2 linked regions of the Homo sapiens genome follow. The protein of the gene in region 1 purifies or fractionates together with the protein of each later gene. This does not show direct contact. Each region holds a gene or a part of one and is shown in the gene's direction. Other genes may lie near its edges.

Evidence for each region. Proteins that work in one complex are often made in the same cells at the same time.
Region 2: the proteins of ANKRD30A (region 1) and SCLT1 purify together in Homo sapiens (affinity purification with mass spectrometry; one large-scale study listed by BioGRID and IntAct). This does not show direct contact.

The regions. Positions count from the first base shown.
Region 1 is NC_000010.11:37,124,431-37,128,397, forward strand, and holds the start of ANKRD30A (ankyrin repeat domain-containing protein 30A), read left to right. Parts: upstream 1-1,167; 5' UTR 1,168-1,357; coding exon 1,358-1,578; intron 1,579-3,967.
Region 2 is NC_000004.12:128,883,493-128,887,539, reverse strand, and holds the end of SCLT1 (sodium channel and clathrin linker 1), read left to right. Parts: intron 1-3,000; coding exon 3,001-3,063; 3' UTR 3,064-3,547; downstream 3,548-4,047. UniProt on the Homo sapiens protein: Adapter protein that links SCN10A to clathrin. Regulates SCN10A channel activity, possibly by promoting channel internalization.

The DNA.
Region 1 (3,967 bases):
TTGAACCCGGGAGGCAGAGGTTGCAGTGAGCCGAGATGGCGCCCTTGCACTACAGCCTGGGCAACAGAGCGAGACTCCGTCTCAAAAAAAAAAAAAAAAAGTAACCAATGCAGGAAACCGAGAGGAGAGGTTTGGAAGGTGGTTTAGTGAGGTAATCCATCTTTTCTAGTGATAAACTGGCACCCAGTCAATTTATTCATCAGAAGGGAATACATCAGCCTGGCGTGGTGGCTCGCCCCCGACCCTGTCAGCGTCACCAGCAGCGCGGATCCATGGGCCAGAAGCCTCTAGGGCGCCTAAGTCAGGGGGTGGGTCCCCGGCTGCAGGAGGGCGGGAACGGACACTCAGTGCCACCGCGGAGGCTGCACGGTGCCCAGCGCCAGGGTCCAGCTCCTGGATCGCAGGTCGAGGAGGGGCCACGGGCGGCTCACTGAAACCTCCGCCTCCCGGGTCCAAGCCATTTCCCTGCCTCAGCCTCCTGAATAGCTGGTATTACAGGGATGTGCCACCATGCCCGGCTAATTTTGTATTTTTTTTTTTTTTTTTTTTAGTAGAGACAGGATTTCTCCATGTTGGTCAGGCAGTTCTGGAACTCCTAGGGTCAAGCGATCTGCCCCGCTCAGCCTTCCGAAGTCCTGGGATCAGGACTTTGCGATCCTGGGCAGATCGCTTGAGCCTAAGAGTTCCAGACCGGCCTCACCAACATGGAGAAACCCCGTCTCTACTAAAAAAATACAAGATTAGCCTCCACCGTGGACTCAGGTGCAGCTCCCACCTGAACATGGCACGCGGCAGCAGGGGCTGCAACCTCGACCCTGTCAGCGTCACCAGCAGCGCGGATCCTTGGGCCAGAAGCCTCCAGGGCGCCTAAGTCAGGGGGTGGGTCCCTGGCTGCAGGAGGGCGGGAACCGACACTCAGTGCCACCCAAGAGGCTGCACCGTGCCCAGCATCAGGGTCCGGCTCCTGGATCGCAGGTCGAGGAGGGGCCAGGGGCGGCTATGTCAAGCGGGCCATGTGGCATGGCGCCCCCCACTTTCCGCTCCAGGGAGGCCCGCCAGCCTCGCAGTGCCTCAGCGGCAGTTGCCACCTGCACGCGGTGCCCGGAGAACGCGGCCAGGGCGCGTGTCTCCTCAGCCTGCTGAGCTGCGCATGCGCTGCTGGCTAACGGCTCTGCTCAGCGCGATTCTACTGAGAGAGGCCTGAGTGTGCAAGAGCTTGGCGAACACAGAACTTTTTACGGGTATCGAGGCGGTGCGTGGACTGAAGAAGGGCGAGGGCGATTGGGGAGGGGTGGGGGGTGGTGGCTGGGAAGGGCGATCGGGAGGCGCGGGCACTCTCTAGCAGGTGGCCGCAGCCATGGAGGAGATCTCTGCCGCCGCTGTCAAGGTCGTGCCGGGCCCGGAGCGCCCGAGCCCTTTCAGCCAGCTAGTCTATACCAGCAACGACTCCTACATCGTCCACTCTGGGGATCTTAGAAAGATCCATAAAGCTGCCTCCCGGGGACAAGTCCGGAAGCTGGAGAAGATGACAAAGAGGAAGAAGACCATCAACCTTAATATACAAGACGCCCAGAAGAGGTACCAGGCCCTGCCTGAGCCGGGGCTGCAGGAGGAGGTGGGGGCGGTGGGAGGATCGCCCCTTCAGAGTCGGGGGCTGGGGGGCCTGGGGAAGAAGGGAGCAGGTGGAGGAGTAACGGGCAGCGGGGCAGCCATCCTGGGCCCTCGGGTCTAGGCCTTCTTCCTGGGCAGGCCCCCAGGCTTGGGATGCGGGGTCCCTGCAGGGCGGAGGGCCCATGCCACCTTAAAATCAACCCCAAACTTTAGCTGCTTTCTCCTTCACTCCCACTTCCTCTCACAGAGGACTGTGTAGAGAATTTTAAAGTGATTTAACTCACAAAATTAAGTACATACAGGGTTTTACATTTAATGTACAGGTTTTAAAAGATAATGTTAGATACATTATGAAATGGTGCGTAATGAAATAATTCCCATAATATATGTACTTCTTGGCTAAAAATTATCTGGATAGAGTCCAATATCCATTTTGATATCAATGAATGTCTATGTAAATATGTTCTTTGCTGAGGGACCTTAGAAGGAAACTTCGAGGTGGGAAGATGGTTTATGTTCTTGAATTTAAGAAGACTCATTTTTCTCAGGATGCGAGTTCTTTATCAGTTTTACATAAACCAAATAAAGTTATCAACGTTTTAACATTTTTTAAATTACACAGGCTGTCTTTTACTATTGTGATGACATTTTAAATATTTTGTAATGGAGTAAAAAAGTCTTGCCCTTCTAGATATCAAAATGTGGTATTAATTTGCACAAGATGAGCCGGGAGTGGTGGCTCACGCCTGTGATCCCAACACTTTGGGCTGCGGAGGCAGGTGGATCATCTGAGGTCAGGAGTTCAAGATCAGCCTGGCCAATATGGTGAAACGCCGTCTCTACAAAAATACAAAAATTAGCCGGGCATGATGTCGGGTGCCTGTAATCCCAGCTACTGGGGAGGCTGAGGCGGGAGAATCGCTTGAACCCGGTAGGCGGAGATTGCAGAGAGCCGAGATCCCACCACTGCAATTCAGCCTAGGTGATAGAGTGAAACTCTGTCTCAAAAAAAAAAAAAAAAAAAAAAAAAAAAAAAAAAAAAAATCACAAATTGTTCGCTAACAGCTGAAAAGACAGGTAAATAAATACAACAGAATAGAAAATCCACAAACACCCAAATATATGTAAGAATTTAGAACTTGGTAATGGTCACACTTTATACTAGCAGGAAAAGAATTAGTTTCCTAAGTGAAATGCCTGCTTTTTGGAGAAAACTAGATTTTTGTGCCACAAAATAAGTTCCTGATGGAATATAGATTAAAAGTTTTTAATGTACAAAATGATAAAAATACCGGAAGAAAATATAAATGCCTATTTACACAGATACATTTTTATCTTGACAAAACCTTTTTAAGAAGCTCAGAAGCAAGCACTCTGAAGGGCAATTTAGTAAAACAGAAATTAAGTCACCCTGCATATGAGAAAAAATAAAGGGCAGCATACTTGTAAAAATATTTACTACATATGTATGTGTGTGTGTGTATACATATTAGATTTAAAAATCTTCGCTTTATAGAGAATTCACTCAAATCAACAAAAAACCCTCTAATTTAAAATTGGGAAATTTAAATTAGAGATCTAAATTGCAGATCTAAAAATTGGGCAAAGTCCTTTTTTAAGATCTGCAACTGACCTATGCACACAGGAAATAATATTTAGTGTTCCTGGTTAGAGAAGGCATTTAAGTTAAAAAAGGAATCAAATACTGTTTTCTATCCACAAAGTTTGTGAGGATAAAAAGCAGTGATATTTATAGTACTCCTTAAAGTTTAAGTTGCAGATGACTTTTCAAATAGACAATTTGATGGTAAGTACCATATTTAAAAAATTGTATATGCCCATTAGTGATCAATTCTATTATACTAAAATATTTTTAGAAAATAATGAAACATACATGCAATTTCTTTTCTGAGCACTTCTTAAAATATCAGTGTATTAAAAAGAATCCATTTAATGGCTTTTATAAATACATTTCAGTGAGTTTACAGCATGGGATAATAGTTGACCACTCAAGGTAGAAATATATACAGAAGTATGTTGACATTTGAAAATGTATTTTGGTGTACCAACTGAGGGTAAAGTTCAGTTTGACTATACATACACATAGACTATGGTCTTGTGTTATCTGAAATTATGTACAAAATATAAAATTTGTTATTTGAGGACATTTGTTTTAATATAAAATGTTTTTCCTTTTTATTATCTTTGATTTATGCATTGAGCATGTACAATGCTATTAGTAAAAGTTTATTGTTAATAAAATAATTTTTGGGAAGATCAGCAATGTGAAATTTGCACAGATAAAAATAGTTTCTCACTTTCTATGTTTTAATTTTTATTTTTTGTGGATTAGTAT
Region 2 (4,047 bases), on another chromosome or scaffold:
ATTATATTTGCTTATAAATGTATTATTTCAATCAAAATTAATATTATTCTTAACTATTACAGCATTTTATACATAGTAAAGCCACTCTGCTTGCTGAATTCAGTTTATGTTCATGATATTTACAGATTTTTTTGAATCTACTTCTGTTATGAACATGGCATGCCACTTAAAGAAAATTTAATAATAATTTATCCTTCTGTTACTCTCCCTCTTGAAAGTAATTACAGCCTTTTCAAATAATTTTTATGTCTTATGAAGTTATGAATTAACTAATGGGTTAGCTAATTATGCAAGAATGTATTTAGGTTATAAGGTAACAGAAGTTAGGTGCACTGGACAGTATCTGGCAAGTATGTGTTTTGGTGTCAGGCAAATCGCTTAGTGCCATTTAGTGCCATTAAGTAAAAGCTTGTGACTTTGGGCAATTTCAACTTCTCTAAGCCTCAGTTTCCTCATGTTTAATATAGGATAATAATACCTCCCTCATACGGTTATTAAAGGATCAAAAGAATTAACACATGTAAAGCATTTCCTATAGTGGTAAGTAGATATTTAGACAGATATGTAAGAAATTAAATTTCTGTATCATAATCCTTAAAGCTTCACGTTTACCTTTTTTAAGGCAAATGGCAAAGAAAACGTCTACGAAAATCAACTACCTTGAGTTCTATAGTAAAAAGGGAACGATTACAGGACATTAATTATATAACCAGTTAGCATCTAGTTTAGTTTCTCCCCTGAAAAAATTAAACCTAAACAGTCTAGTACTGATGTTTCTTCTGTTGTTTAAACTCTCCAATGGCAAAGATTCCACCGTTCTTTTGACTAACCTTTTTAAAATGTTTTGTCAGTAACCACTTCACGAATTGTTCTGTAACAAATCTTTCCCTAAGCTTTTCTCCTTCCATTCTGTTCTTATTTGAAGATGGAAGGTAATTATTCAGCACTTTTCCCTTACCCAAAAAGGAATTTCTTCCCTGGAGTTAATATTTTTTCTGTTTTAAATGAGTCCAAGTGATCAACTTTGTTTGTAAGACGTACATTTTATTTTTTTAATTTTTATCTTTACCCTCTCTGAATCTTCTAATTTTCCTATAAAAACTGAAAAAGTGCTATTAGAAATAATATCCTACTAAATGCATATTAACAAAATGAAGAAAATTTAAAAATTATTATCATCTCTGACACATCACACTTACCATAGTGCAGTGCAGCATCGTGTTACTGGTTCAATACAAGCCCTGAATCGTGCTGATGCACTGTGCTCTAAATGTGCTTTTCTGATTAACTTTCTCTACACGTTATTCATCCATTCTAAGTGTATCACTCTAAATAGTTGAATGCCATACTGTGTTCTGTTAACATATGAGTTTTTTAAATCAGCGTGGTGAAGCCTTTCAATGCAAGAACACAAAACCTAGAAGCTAAGAAAAAAATTAATAAATATAATCACAGTTTCAAATTTCTGTATCAGAAAAAGTCATAAAGTCAGTGACAAACCGAGAAAAATATTTGTACCATATATGACAAAAGGCTAATGCCCTAAACACATATAAAGGATACCTAAGTTTTCAAAAAATGCCACAGTCCGGTAGACAAATATATAAAGGAAGTTTATGGAGAAAGAAGGACAGATGGCTTTTAAACATTTAAAAAGATGTTCATCCTCACCTATAAGACAAATACAAATTTAAACTGTAATCACATCATTTTTTACCTATCAGATCATGAAGTTTGGAAATGCATTGTGCTGGCACTTTCACATATTATTGATATAAGCACATGTTGGTACAGTCTCCGGAGCACAGTTTGGCAGTATCTTTCAAAAACTGTAAATGTATATAACCTTTGACCCACACTTGCACCTGGAAACATTTTTGCCAGGAAGCAAACATATAAAAATACTGATTGAAGCATTGTCTCTCCTTTTAAAAGATTAAAAACCATACAAATACCCAACAATAGCAGACTGGTTATATGGAGTATTCACACAGAGGAACAGTTTGCAGCTATTAAGAGGAATAAAGTATAGTAGGCCTAATATAGAGCTATTTCTAAGGTAGATTATTTAGAAGAAAAACACAAGATGAAAAGTGTTTATAATACTTTCATCATTTTTTAAATTAAAGGAATGAAGAAATACATATATTCTCATTTAAAATATTTACGGAAACATACTTTAAAACTGGAAATAGTGGTTGTATCTGGAGAGGGGTCTATGGAATGAAAGACAGCAATGGGAACGAGACTTCCTTTATGCTGTCTACCGTTTTGTACTGTTAGATCTTTTTTTACTATGTGTATATGTTATTAATTCCTACTAACATTTAAAGATTATTTTTCTATTAGACTTGTTATAATCTATCATCACTTTATTATCAGCCTTGCATTGTGTTGGCTTACATTAGTTTGTGTTTTAGAAACTTTCCTGATTAACTTTTATGTAGATGTTTTTCATCCATCTGGAATATGTTTTACAATTCTAAGCGTATCACCCTGAGCTATAGAATGTCTTATTTGACCTGCATTTCTCTAAATTAATAGACATTTTAAAGTTTCAAGAGTAAAATAGAAATTAATTTTAAAATGATCACTGACTGGGCACAGTGGCTTACACCTATAATCCCAGTACTTTGAGACCAAGGTGGGTGGATTGCTTGAGCCCAAGAGTTCAAGGCTGGTCTGGGCAACGTAGTGAGACCCTGTCTCTGAAAAAAATTAAAAATTAAAATTAACCAGGTGTAGTGGCTACTGAAGAGGCTGAAGTAGAAGGATCACTTGATCCTGGGAGGTCAAGGCTACATTGAGCTGTGATTGTACCACTGTACTCCAGCCTGGGCAACAGAGCAAGATTGCCTCAAAAAGAAAAAGATCATTTACAAAACCCTTTCCAATAAGACCATTTCAGTACTTATAGGTTGTGATGCATTCTTCTTTGTATTAATCTAAGATTTTCCACAGAAAAAGTAACTACTTACCGATTGTTTATTTTAATTGCAGCTCAGTGTGATTACAGTGCAGAGAAGAAAAGCAGCCTCCCTGATGAATCTGGAAAATATTTAAAAATATTCATAGTTCACTCACAGAACTTTAGAGTTGGGAAAGCAGTTGGACTAGAAGTGTATTGAAATGGTAAAGCCTGCAAAGTATAATAGTTAAGGCTTGTGTTATTTCGCGTAAGCATTGTTGTTCTGTTTTGAGGGTTATTGGAAAACAGAGCAGTGACCACTTCCTGTAAGTAAAGAAAATATAATCCTATATTGAGCTTCAGTGGAGAATAAACCAGCTGAGAAGAACTCATTGCCTTCATCAATGTGTCTGTTTTTTAATTCCTCCTTTTTCCCTTGAAAGGACATAATAATTTTCAAACTATGCAAATTTCTCTTTCATAAGAAAGAGTTTTTAAGAAAATTCTAGAATTTAATATTTCAGTTTCCAAGATTTGAGAATTTTACATCTAATTGTTACTTCTAACTCATTTTTAAAGTTCCTAAGTATCCATTTTATTATGAACTCATAAATGTAATAAATTGTGCACTTTCTAAAATGATGCTGTCATGTATTTTAATGTATGATTGTAGTGCTTCATTTTTAACTTACGGTTTTCAGTATTTATGGAACTTGATATTTAAGAATTTGGAAGGTGTCTTTTACATGTTACTTAAAGCAATACTAATCAAATGGAGATCTTAGGTGCTAAGACTGCATGGCATTGAACTATTGAAGTCCTATTGATCTTCATAGATACATGTTCCTATTCTCTGGTTTGAACTTAGCGCACCCTGGTTTCTGTTGATTAAAGCAGAGAGGTTTGCATCTGGATAACCAATTAGGAGACTGCTGCAGTTGTCCAGATAAAAGATAATGAGTTTGAGTTGAAGGTGACATGAAAACATTCACGTGTAGATATTCAGCCATCAGTCAGAAATTTAGTAATGGTGCTAACAGTTAAGATAGTCATAGGAATCTTTTTTTATTATTATTATCATATTTTAAGTTCTAGGGTAAATGTGCAGAACATGCAGGTTTGTTACATAGGTATACCTG